Regions from separate parts of the Homo sapiens genome. Here all the other regions are reported to be linked to region 2. The links are microRNA targets in miRTarBase. Many come from high-throughput screens and were not tested one by one. Region 2 holds a microRNA gene; each other region holds the end of a gene's coding sequence.

What was found. Region 2 holds the annotated microRNA hsa-miR-6729-5p (UGGGCGAGGGCGGCUGAGCGGC, at 1,623-1,644, shown strand). A microRNA usually pairs through its seed, bases 2 to 8, with sites in the 3' UTR of a target mRNA and lowers its output. Matches are read on the target gene's strand: a 7mer-m8 pairs with bases 2 to 8, a 7mer-A1 pairs with bases 2 to 7 and ends in A, and an 8mer does both.
Region 1: the mRNA of SLC36A1 is a reported target of hsa-miR-6729-5p. Seed matches in the 3' UTR shown: 8mer at 2,373-2,380.
Region 3: miRTarBase lists MRPS10 as a target of hsa-miR-6729-5p. The part of its 3' UTR that is shown has no 7-base or 8-base seed match.

The regions. Positions count from the first base shown.
Region 1 is chr5:151,487,600-151,490,944 of GRCh38, reverse strand. It overlaps SLC36A1 (solute carrier family 36 member 1), which reads right to left. Exons shown (of 11, transcript NM_078483.4): 11 at 1-2,962. The coding sequence ends at 2,691. Among named protein-coding and RNA genes, the nearest start is that of MIR6499, 33 kb to the left of the region's middle. RefSeq lists an enhancer at 1-105.
Region 2 is chr1:12,027,541-12,030,885 of GRCh38, forward strand. It overlaps MIR6729 (microRNA 6729), which reads left to right and starts at 1,618; the gene lies at 1,618-1,682. It overlaps MIIP (migration and invasion inhibitory protein), which reads left to right. Exons shown (of 10, transcript NM_021933.4): 5 at 1,493-1,601; 6 at 1,683-1,741; 7 at 2,225-2,354; 8 at 2,488-2,584.
Region 3 is chr6:42,205,675-42,208,674 of GRCh38, forward strand. It overlaps MRPS10 (mitochondrial ribosomal protein S10), which reads right to left. Exons shown (of 7, transcript NM_018141.4): 7 at 1,133-2,698. The coding sequence ends at 2,615. Among named protein-coding and RNA genes, the nearest start is that of MRPS10, 11 kb to the right of the region's middle.

The DNA of each region.
Region 1 (3,345 bases), not on the chromosome of region 2:
TTTCTACTTATCCTGGGAAGACACTGGGGAGGGCTCTCTACCTCAAGAAGCCCTTTGGGCTGCATAAGAGATTCTGGGCTGGCTGCGAGCTGCTTGCATAAGAGGAGGAAGGGCTTCCTCCCACTACTACTGACTGGCTGACCCTTTGCTTGATGCCTAAGAGCTGTGCACCTGCATAGCCAGGAAGGTCCTCTGGCTGGAGCTGCCCTTCCTGGGTCTTCTGAAAGAGCCACGCAATCAGTCTGTCAGTGTAGCAGGAGCACAAGCCAGAGATCAAATAGGCCATGCCAAATTGGCTTCCAGAAATCCTAAAGCTACAGCCAACTCTCCTACATACCACGTTCTCACGGCCAGGGGTGTGGAAGCAATAGCCTGCATCCTGCTAAGAGCTGGGGGACCCCAGTATTCTACCATCCAGTCCTCAGGTCCCAACATCACAGTCCCAATCTCAGAACTCGGATGGGCAGGATGGTCTCTAGCAGCTCTGAGTAAACAGAAACGTCCACCAAGGAGGACATGGGCAGGACACAGGTCTGGCCCTCCAGTTGGCATCTACCTTCTCACTGAGACCACTCTTAGCACCGCTGGGAAAGACAGCTAAGATAGCGGCTGGGCTGCCAGAGCCCGAACTTGGAACCAGGAGATGACAGTTTCTGAGCCCACTTTGGTAACTTCTAAGCCTGAGACTTCAGAAGACAGGGCCTCTGCTACTCCCGGCTAGATTCCTGGTCACATAGCACCTGTTAAGAGTCCACCATAGAACAGAAAGGGTGGGTGAAAATCGTCCTTCTCCTAAGGAAGAACAAGTCAACAATGATAGCATATTCCTAAGTTAACAAATTATTAGGTAGGTTGGGAGTCACTACAATGAGAGTCCACTTTTCCCATCCCTTCACCTGGAAGTCAGCTCTCCTGGCTTTGGAACAGAAGAGACAGAAAAAACTGGGGCCATATGGGTGGGTCACAGCCCTTATGAGCTTTGGCGAAACACAGAAGCAAAACCCCTGATACATTTTTGCTGCTCTCCTTCAACCAGCTTTCAGAGTGAACTGTATCTGCAGTGAAGCAAGAGCCTGGTGACGGGACAGAAGAGAAAAGGAGTCTGGTCTGTTACTTACACAGGAACACACACACACACGCACGTACACACACACGTGCACAAATACACAGCTAAAGAGGGGGAATTCATCAATGGCCTTCTGAAATACTTCGCACACCAAGAGGAAAGAAGAGGCAGCCCACAGCAAGGCAATGTATCTTCCTCTGCCTTCTCTGAAGTTTGCTCCCAAATCTGAAGGCTGACCTTGAGGAGGGCCAACCTCAAGGCTGTTTGTGAAACCCAGGGAGGCATTCTGGGGGAAAGACAGGGCTCATAATTAGTGTTCAGTGGGTTCCTTTCAAAGTCCAGGCCACAGAGGCAGTGTGGGGCCGGGCACTGGTTCTGCCCTTTTCCCCACTGATTGTAAACAACCGAGCACTGCGCGTAGTGTCAGACCAGCTGCTGTAAAGTCTATTAACTTAATTTCAAACTCTGTGCACACTGACCTCAGCTACTCATCGGTGGCAATAGAGCTGGTGTCGTCCCAGCACGATGGCAACAGAGCATTGCTGATCCTTTCACCTGGCGTGGGCTGAGGCTGAAACATGGGCCTGCATGCACACAGCCCCATTTTATACGCCTCTCACTCAGCCACCCTTCCCTCGGCCCGGTGCACCCATACATTTCTGCAGTCCTTCAATGTCTTTTCGGTATGAAACCAGGCTGGTCAACAGGAGGCAAAATCTGTGCCTCCTCACCGAGGTACATTTTTAGACGATCCTGATTAAAACCTTTGAGTCCTCAGCCAAGAGTGCCGAGGACCCATGCAGACATCTGGAGCGAGCTTCTTTTCAGCAGGAGAAGTTGAGTCAAAGTTTACTGAAGAAGAAGTGATTCGTAATAGCCCCAGATCTAAGACAGTCTAAAAACAAAAATCTGATTTTAAATAAAAGATAAATATTTTCAGTTTAGGCAACACTTCGTATGTTTTAAGAGCTAAAGCAACTAAGAACACAGTACTGTGACCCACACTAAGGAATCCAGGGAAGAGAAGCATTGCCTTAGGGGTCACAGCAAGCCAGAGAGTCCAGATTAAAAACTCCAGCTTGGGGGCCTGTTTCAAATGACCAGGTAGGTCCAGCCACCCCCTGGAGACTCGAATAGGAAGAATACTGAGATACAACATTTGGGAGAGAGATGAGAAAGAAGCCCAGCTTTATAAAGAGGGGGCGTTCCCAGTTACTTAATCTATGCCTGGCCCAGAAAAGGTGAAAACATGAGGTGGGGGACATGAAAATTGTTAAATAAAGTGAACTGTGCAGTAAGAATGAGTTGGGCGAGGTGCACCAGCAGAGGGGAGGCAGGTAGGAAGGAGGAGGCATGATGAGGGGGAGCTGGAAAGTTCTGGGTGTAAATAGGTACAGGTGAGCGATGGCAGCCCTGTCACTAGTAGCACTTCTGCGTGTCTGCCACCCCACCTCTCCCCTGCCCTCAGGTTACCTGGCCCAGGGTATCCAGGTGCCAGGCAGAGGGGTTCCCACACAGCAACCCTGACTTTCCTCAGAGCCTGGACCATACCTGAGGCTCTGAGGACAGGTAACGGGGGACACATGGGGCAGGGGTAGGCAGCTGCAGAGACGAACCCAGATCCCTATATGAAGGCACAGGTGGAATTGATGAAGATGGGAGCATTGCTTGGCTGGATCAGCTCATAGAGAGCCTCATAGGTCCCCACCACAAAGCCCACGAAGCCCAGGATGCTGATCAGGGCGTCCTTAAAGATGGTGAGGGGGCTCATGCCCTCTGAGTAGAAGGTGGTGACCTCCAGGAGCGGTGGGATGATGAGGGCCAGGGCGCTGCTGCTCACGGAGCCCACCAGGGAGATGACCAGGTCCAGGCGGGGGATGAGGATGGCCAAGATGCCTGCAGGGAGAGAGGACATGCCTGTTTAAGATGCCCAGAGCTGGGAAAGGTCTGTCTCCCTACTGTTGAGCGAATTCAGCATCTGTCCATCTTATAGGATTGAGAGCTCTAAGAAAACTTAGACATTGTCCAGTTCAATCTCTGTGAAATAGATGCCCAGAAACATGGAATAACTGGCGTCCCACTGCAAGGTCAGCAGAACTGGGACCGGAACCCGGATCTTCTGGCTCCGGTCCCCAGGCTTTCAGCTTTTCCGGCTACAGCACATGACTTCCATCTTTCTGTGCAAAAGGAACCAAATTACATTTCAGGTCAATCTGGTTTCTACCCAAGGAGGGAGGGTAGGGAGAAGAAAAGGAGGTGGACGTTCCTGAGCAGCTGCT
Region 2 (3,345 bases):
TCTGGGGAAGGAAAGGTCCTTGTTCTGACTGCTACACCCCTAGGCCTGGGACTCGGTCTTCTGACTCCTCCTCTCTATCTTCCCTCTATGATCTCCCAAACGCTGAGGTGTTTGGACACTTTCTCTACTTCTCCATTTGTATCTCTAGCCCGCACCTCTCCTCCGAATTCCAGACTTGTATATCCCACTGTCTTCTCCACATCACCATGAAGTTATTAACCTTCTGTCCGAAATCAAGGTCCTGATTTCCACTGCTGTGCTCCTCCTGCAGTCTTTCCTGTCTCCATAAATGGCAACTCCAAATACTAAATAGGTCAGGCCATAAACTTGCTGGATTTACCATCCAGCTACATCCTGATACACCCAACATAAGTTGAAAATACTGTTTAGGCCGGGTGCGGTGGCTCACGCCTGTAATCCCAGCACTTTGGGAGGCCGAGGCAGGTGGATCAGGCCAGGAGTTTGAGAACAGCCTGGCCAAGATGGTGAAACCCCGTCTCTACTAAAAATACAAAAATTAGCTGGGTGTGGTGGCGCACGCCTGTAATTCCAGCTCTGTAGGTGGCTGAGACATGAGAATCGCTTGAACCTGGGAGGCAGAGGTTGCAGTGAGCCGAGGTCGCTCCACTGCACTGCACCCTGGGCAACACGGTGAGATTCTGTCTCAAAAAATAAAAAAAGAAACATCCTAAGTCGAATCATGGTAAGTTGGGGGCTGCCCCTACCTCTCCCCAGCTGAATCCTAACCGATGCCTCTGCTTCCCCTCAACTTGAAGCAGCCAGAGGAGGAGTTCTGTAAAAATATGTGGCTGATGTGGTTGTGTCCCTCCCATTCCCCAGACCCTCCCTGGGCTTCTTAACCTCATCTCCTCCACCCTCGCTGCCTTCCTGCCACTTTCCCCTCCTGGCTGTTCCTCAGCTGAACCATGCACATGCCCACCCCGGGGCCTTTGCGCTTGCTCTTTCATCTCCCTGCGATGTCCTTCCTGGGAGGTCTCTGTGGCTTCTCCATGTCTCTGCTCAGGGTCATCTCACTCGGAGAGGCCTTCCCTGGTATGGCTGCCCGGCCATACTAGGCTCTGACGCTGCTCTCTTGCTTTCTGGCAGGTATCAGCATTCAGTCTTGTATCACGGGTTTTTTTTTTTTTGGTGGCTAGTTCATCTCTTGCCACCTTACAGTGTAAGCCTCATTAAGGCCAGGGGCTTTGTCTGTCTAGTTCCTGGCACATGAAACAGCATCTAGCCCTGTCATAAGGGCTCTGTCGATATTTTTTCCATGGATGGTTGGCTATGCATCAGGGTAGACAGACACTGAAACCAACCAACAGTCCCAGTGACTGGAGGGGCCCTCCTGGCCTGTTTGAGGCACAGTAGGGATGAAGCAGGTGGCCTGGGGTGCCAGGGCTGATCGTCTCTCCAAGCCTTGGCCGGTGGCCACACAGCAGCCCCCAGCCCCTCTCCCGTCAGCTGCCTGGTGCTTTGCCCACACCAGGGTCTCTGGACACCAGCTCTTCCATCACCAGCCAGCCTGAGGCCTTCTTCTCCAAGCTGCAGGAGTTTCGGGAAACCAACAAGGAGGAGTGTATCTGCAGCCATCCTGAGTGAGCAGGGGCGGGCGAGGGTGGGCGAGGGCGGCTGAGCGGCTCCATCCCCCGGCCTGCTCATCCCCCTCGCCCTCTCAGACCCCAGTTGCCAGGCCTGCGTGAGAGCAGTGGCAGCGGCGTGGAGGAAGACCATGAATGTGAGTGCGGGCCCTCGGCTAGGCCGCTGAGTAGTCCAGCCTCGCGCTGCCCTGGCCTCCCCTGCCCCAGAGCAGTCCCATTTGAGGTTTGGGGCCTGGGGAGGCCCCTGAGATGTTGAGACTCATGGAGGGAGGCCTGCAGTCTGGACAGGGTGGCCAAGCCCTGGTAGGGGTGGAGTGAGCTAAGGCCTGGCCACCGAATTAGGGGCTGCCCTGTGTGGCACCATCCCACCCTCCCCAGCAGTGCCCCTGTGCTGGTGGGACTCCATCCCAGCTCCTGAGGGCCCCAGGAGGATGTCCCTCCCCACCCCTTAGGGCGTGGGCCCCAGGTTCTGGGAGGAAAGGGGTTAGGAGGAAATGGGCCGAAGGGCTTCCCAGAGGGATTGGCAGCTTGTGTGGTTGGGGGCCGCTGAGGGCAGCACGGAGCCTGGGGACCTGGGTTCCTGGCTCAGGGAGAGCTGTGGCTTCTCATGGGCCTCGCAGGCGTGTACTGTTACCGTGTCAACCGGCGCCTGTTCCCGGTGCCTGTGGATCCCGGTACCCCCTGCCGCCTGTGCAGGACACCGCGAGACCAGCAGGGCCCTGGGACCCTGGCGCAGCCAGCGCACGTCAGGTGAGTGACCAGAGTATTGGGACACCTTGGGGGACAGAGCCTGAACCACTGGTTTTAAGAAAAGATGGGCCTGGGCGTGGGCCCCCAACCGCTGGGAGGCTCCTCAGGGGTCCCCCACTGCCCCCCTGCGCAGGGTGAGCATCCCGCTGTCGATCCTGGAGCCCCCGCACCGGTACCACATCCACCGGCGAAAGAGCTTTGACGCCTCTGACACACTGGCCCTGCCCCGGGTGAGCAGCCACGTGGGGCTGGATGGTGATGAGGGCGGGGCTGGCTCAGACTGGCCCAGATCCCCAGGGAGGGTCACAGAGCGAGACTGGGCTCGACAAGGGTGAGCGCCCAAGTCTCTGGAGCACAGCCTGGGCCTCTTCCATCACCCACACCTGTACCTAAGGGAGGTAGGACCCCCGCTCCACGTACCCCGGTGCTTCCAGGGTGATCTGCCTGCAGGCTGGCATGACATGAATGGGTCCTGTTTATTGCGCTTTTGTGTACTGCAGGCACAGTCCTTAGGGGGCTTATCTCATGGAGCCCCCACAGCAGCCAGGAGTGTAGGCACTGCTGTACCCCCACCCTGCAGGTGGGGAGACCGAAGCAGAGGGGGAGGCGCCTTGGTGGAGGAGCTGGGATTCGAACCTAGGTCTCTGTGCTGCTGCTGCTGCTTTTTTTTTTTTTTTTTTTTTTTGAGACCGAGTTTTGTTCTTACTGCCCAGGCTGGAGTGCATTGGCATGGTCTCAGCTCACTGCAGCCTCCACTGTAGTCCCAGCTACTTGGGAGGCTGAGGTGGGAGGATCGCTTGAACCTGGGAGGCAGAGGCTGCAGTGAGCTGAGATCTCGCCACTGCACTGCAGCCTGGGTGACAGAGTGAGACTCCATCTCAAAAAAAAAAAAAATGTCCTTTCCTGTGTCTCCAGGTCGGGATGGGGTGCCAGTGGCAACTCCCCCTGACTCCTAAATTGAGAGTAGGGCAGCTGGGGTCAGAGGAGGAGA
Region 3 (3,000 bases), not on the chromosome of region 2:
CATACCCACCATGGACAGAAAGTGTGACCCAGGCATTAATTCTAATTTTCAGGATATGCATTTTACTCAGAGGCCTAATTTAAAACCAACAAAAGAAAACCAAAAATCTTCTTAGCCTATCAAGATAGCTATATCCTGATAAGCTAAGAAGTTATTTTGTTTATATCATTTTTTCAGTACTGTACTTCATGCCAAACTTGTTTATATCAAGAAGCGGGCTTCAAATATGCCAAATACTTTCGTCGAAGAAATACTGCTAGTTTTGGGCCAGGCGCAGTGGCTCATGCCTGTAATCCCAGCACTTTGGGAGGCCGAGGCAGGTGGATCACGAGGTCAAGAGATCAAGACCATCCTGGCCAACATGGGGAAACCCCATCTCTACTAAAAATACAAAAATCAGCTGGGCGTGGTGGCACATGCCTGTAGTCCCAGCTACTTGGGAGGCTGAGGCAGGATAATCGCTTGAACCTGGGAGGCAGAGGTTGCAATGAGCCGAGATCGCGCCACTGCACTCCAGACCGGGTGACAGTGCAAGATTCCATCTCAAAAAAAAAAAAAAAAAAAGAAAGAAAAAGAAAAAAGAAATACTGCTAGTTTTTCTCACGTGCATGTGTGCACATGTAGTTCATTTGCTTATTTAAGCCGAGGTTTTAACACATAATTGGAAGTCCTAAACTAAGGACTTTGGTTTACATGGAGTGCTATGGTACAATCTCGGCTCACTGCAACATCCACCTCTTGGGTTCAAGCAATCCTCCTGCCTCAGCCTCCCAAGTAGCTGGGATTACAGGCGCCCACCACCATGACCAGCTAATTTTTGTGTTTTTAATAGAGATGGGGTTTTACCATGTTGGCCAGGCTGGTCTCGAACTCCTGACCTCAGGTGATCCACCTGCCTCAGCCTCTCAAAGTGCTGGGATTACAGGCTTGAGCCTCCACAACCGGCCGGGTCTATATTTATTTTTAAAGAATTACTTCAGATGAAAATGTGTCATAAATTGCTGCTTTGCTGCACATAGTTACCATTATGTTGCTCATGTTTTATTGACTAGTTCTTGATCTTCAAGTACTTATACCTGGTGTCAGTATGCTTTAGGCATTCATGAATGACAGTCAACAACTGAGCTGAAGGTCATGGGGCACAAAGCTGCAATTCTTTTAATGGTGATGACAGTAACGTAAGTCTGATACACAAGCAGTATGTATTCAACACACTGATACCTGATAGCATGTCAGGAAAAAAGAATAGGCAATGCAGTTTAAGGGGGGAAAAACTGAGAAGTCATAACTACTCCAAAGATGTGCAGGAAACCACAAAAGACATGGACCTGCTTCTACTATAAAAAGAAAATGAAGCACTTCTCTGGGGTTGCTATACCAACTGTTTCAGCCCATTGTAGTCTTGCCTCTTTCAGGGCTTTAGCCACTATTTCATTTCATGGAAAAGCAGACATCTCCTAACAAACAGAGTGACATTTACCAAAATAAAGAGGGCTTCTCAGTGAGAAGCTTAATAAAGAAAAATATTTACCTATGCTTTGCACAATTTTCTTTTTTTTTTTTTGAGACGGCGTCTCGCTCTGTCGCCAGGCTGGAGTGCAGTGGCGCGATCTCGTCTCACTGCAGCCTCCACCGGGCCCGGGTTCACGCAATTCTCCTGCCTCAGCCTCCTGAGTAGCTGGGATTACAGGCACGTGCCACCATGTCCAGCTAATTTTTGTATTTTTATTAGAGACGGGGTTTCACCGTGTTAGCCAGGATGGTCTGGATCTCTTGACCTCGTGATCCGCCTGCCTCGGCCTCCCAAAATGCTGGGATTACAGGCGTGAGCCACCGTGCCTGGCCTGCTTTGTGCGATTTTCAAAAGCCATTATTTCTATTCAATTTTGGGTACTTAACTACAGTGCTGGATGTAAAGTTTATGCAGTAAAAGCTTATTGAATGAATGAATCATAGGATAAATAATACAACTAGTAATTTCTTAAGATCATAAATTCCATTACAGTAACCCTGGTAGGCAACTCTATAAAGTTCTGGGCTCCAAGAAGAGGTCAGTGCATGCCATAAATGTGTTTGATCTGCTGTGAAGTATATTCAGTCTTCAAAATGTAATGCTTACATGAGATAAAATCGGTTGGTTACCACCCCCAAATTAGCATATGCCAGCCTGCACAAAGGTAAATAGCAAAAACTTTAACTGCTCAATCTGAATTAACCAAAGATTCCTTCTAGGAATCTTAAAAAAAAATAAGGGTACGAACACTCCAAGCACTTATTTTCAGATGCATCAACTGACATAAATTAAAAATGGTACAAACTAATAATTGAACACCAGTAGCGTAACAAAATAGAATTTTCACTCTTTCTGCTTTCAGTCAAAGTGGTTTGCTCATGTTTGCTGAAATCAGAACTGAAACAATGAATAAAAAGAATAGATAAAAGTGGTTCTTCCATTAAAGTTCCATTCCCTGCCCTCAGCTGATGAGGGCACGAGAACTCAATGGAGCAGTTAGGGCAGACTCAAATCATCTCAGCTGGAAGCACTCTCCACTTAAACATACTCATCTGGCCCACCCTCATTTCAAATTTAGGCAAAAATGGCCTCCCTGAGGCTTTATGACTTGCTTTCTTCTTTTTCTTCTGATAGTGTTTCCCAGATTGGCTCCTTGATGTGTTCTGGTAACTGTTCTAATTGTGTCTAAAAAAAGAAAGAAACAAAACTATAATGTGGATTTAACAGAACTCTTTGACTACAAATCGGACTTATTAATTTGGTCAAATCCTCTTTACTTCTTTTTCTTTTATCCCCCTAGTCTTTCTATAGGGTTTTGAAATGGAAAGAAGGAAACTTGATGGTCTATAAAACACTCTCACATACATAATCGATTTGATCCTCAATGATCTTCATGGATTGCCACTTAATGGGATCCCCAGGTCTAGACAACTCATATTGAGGAGGGAGAACTTCATAGGTGGTTCACGGAGGACTTGGGCTGAAAT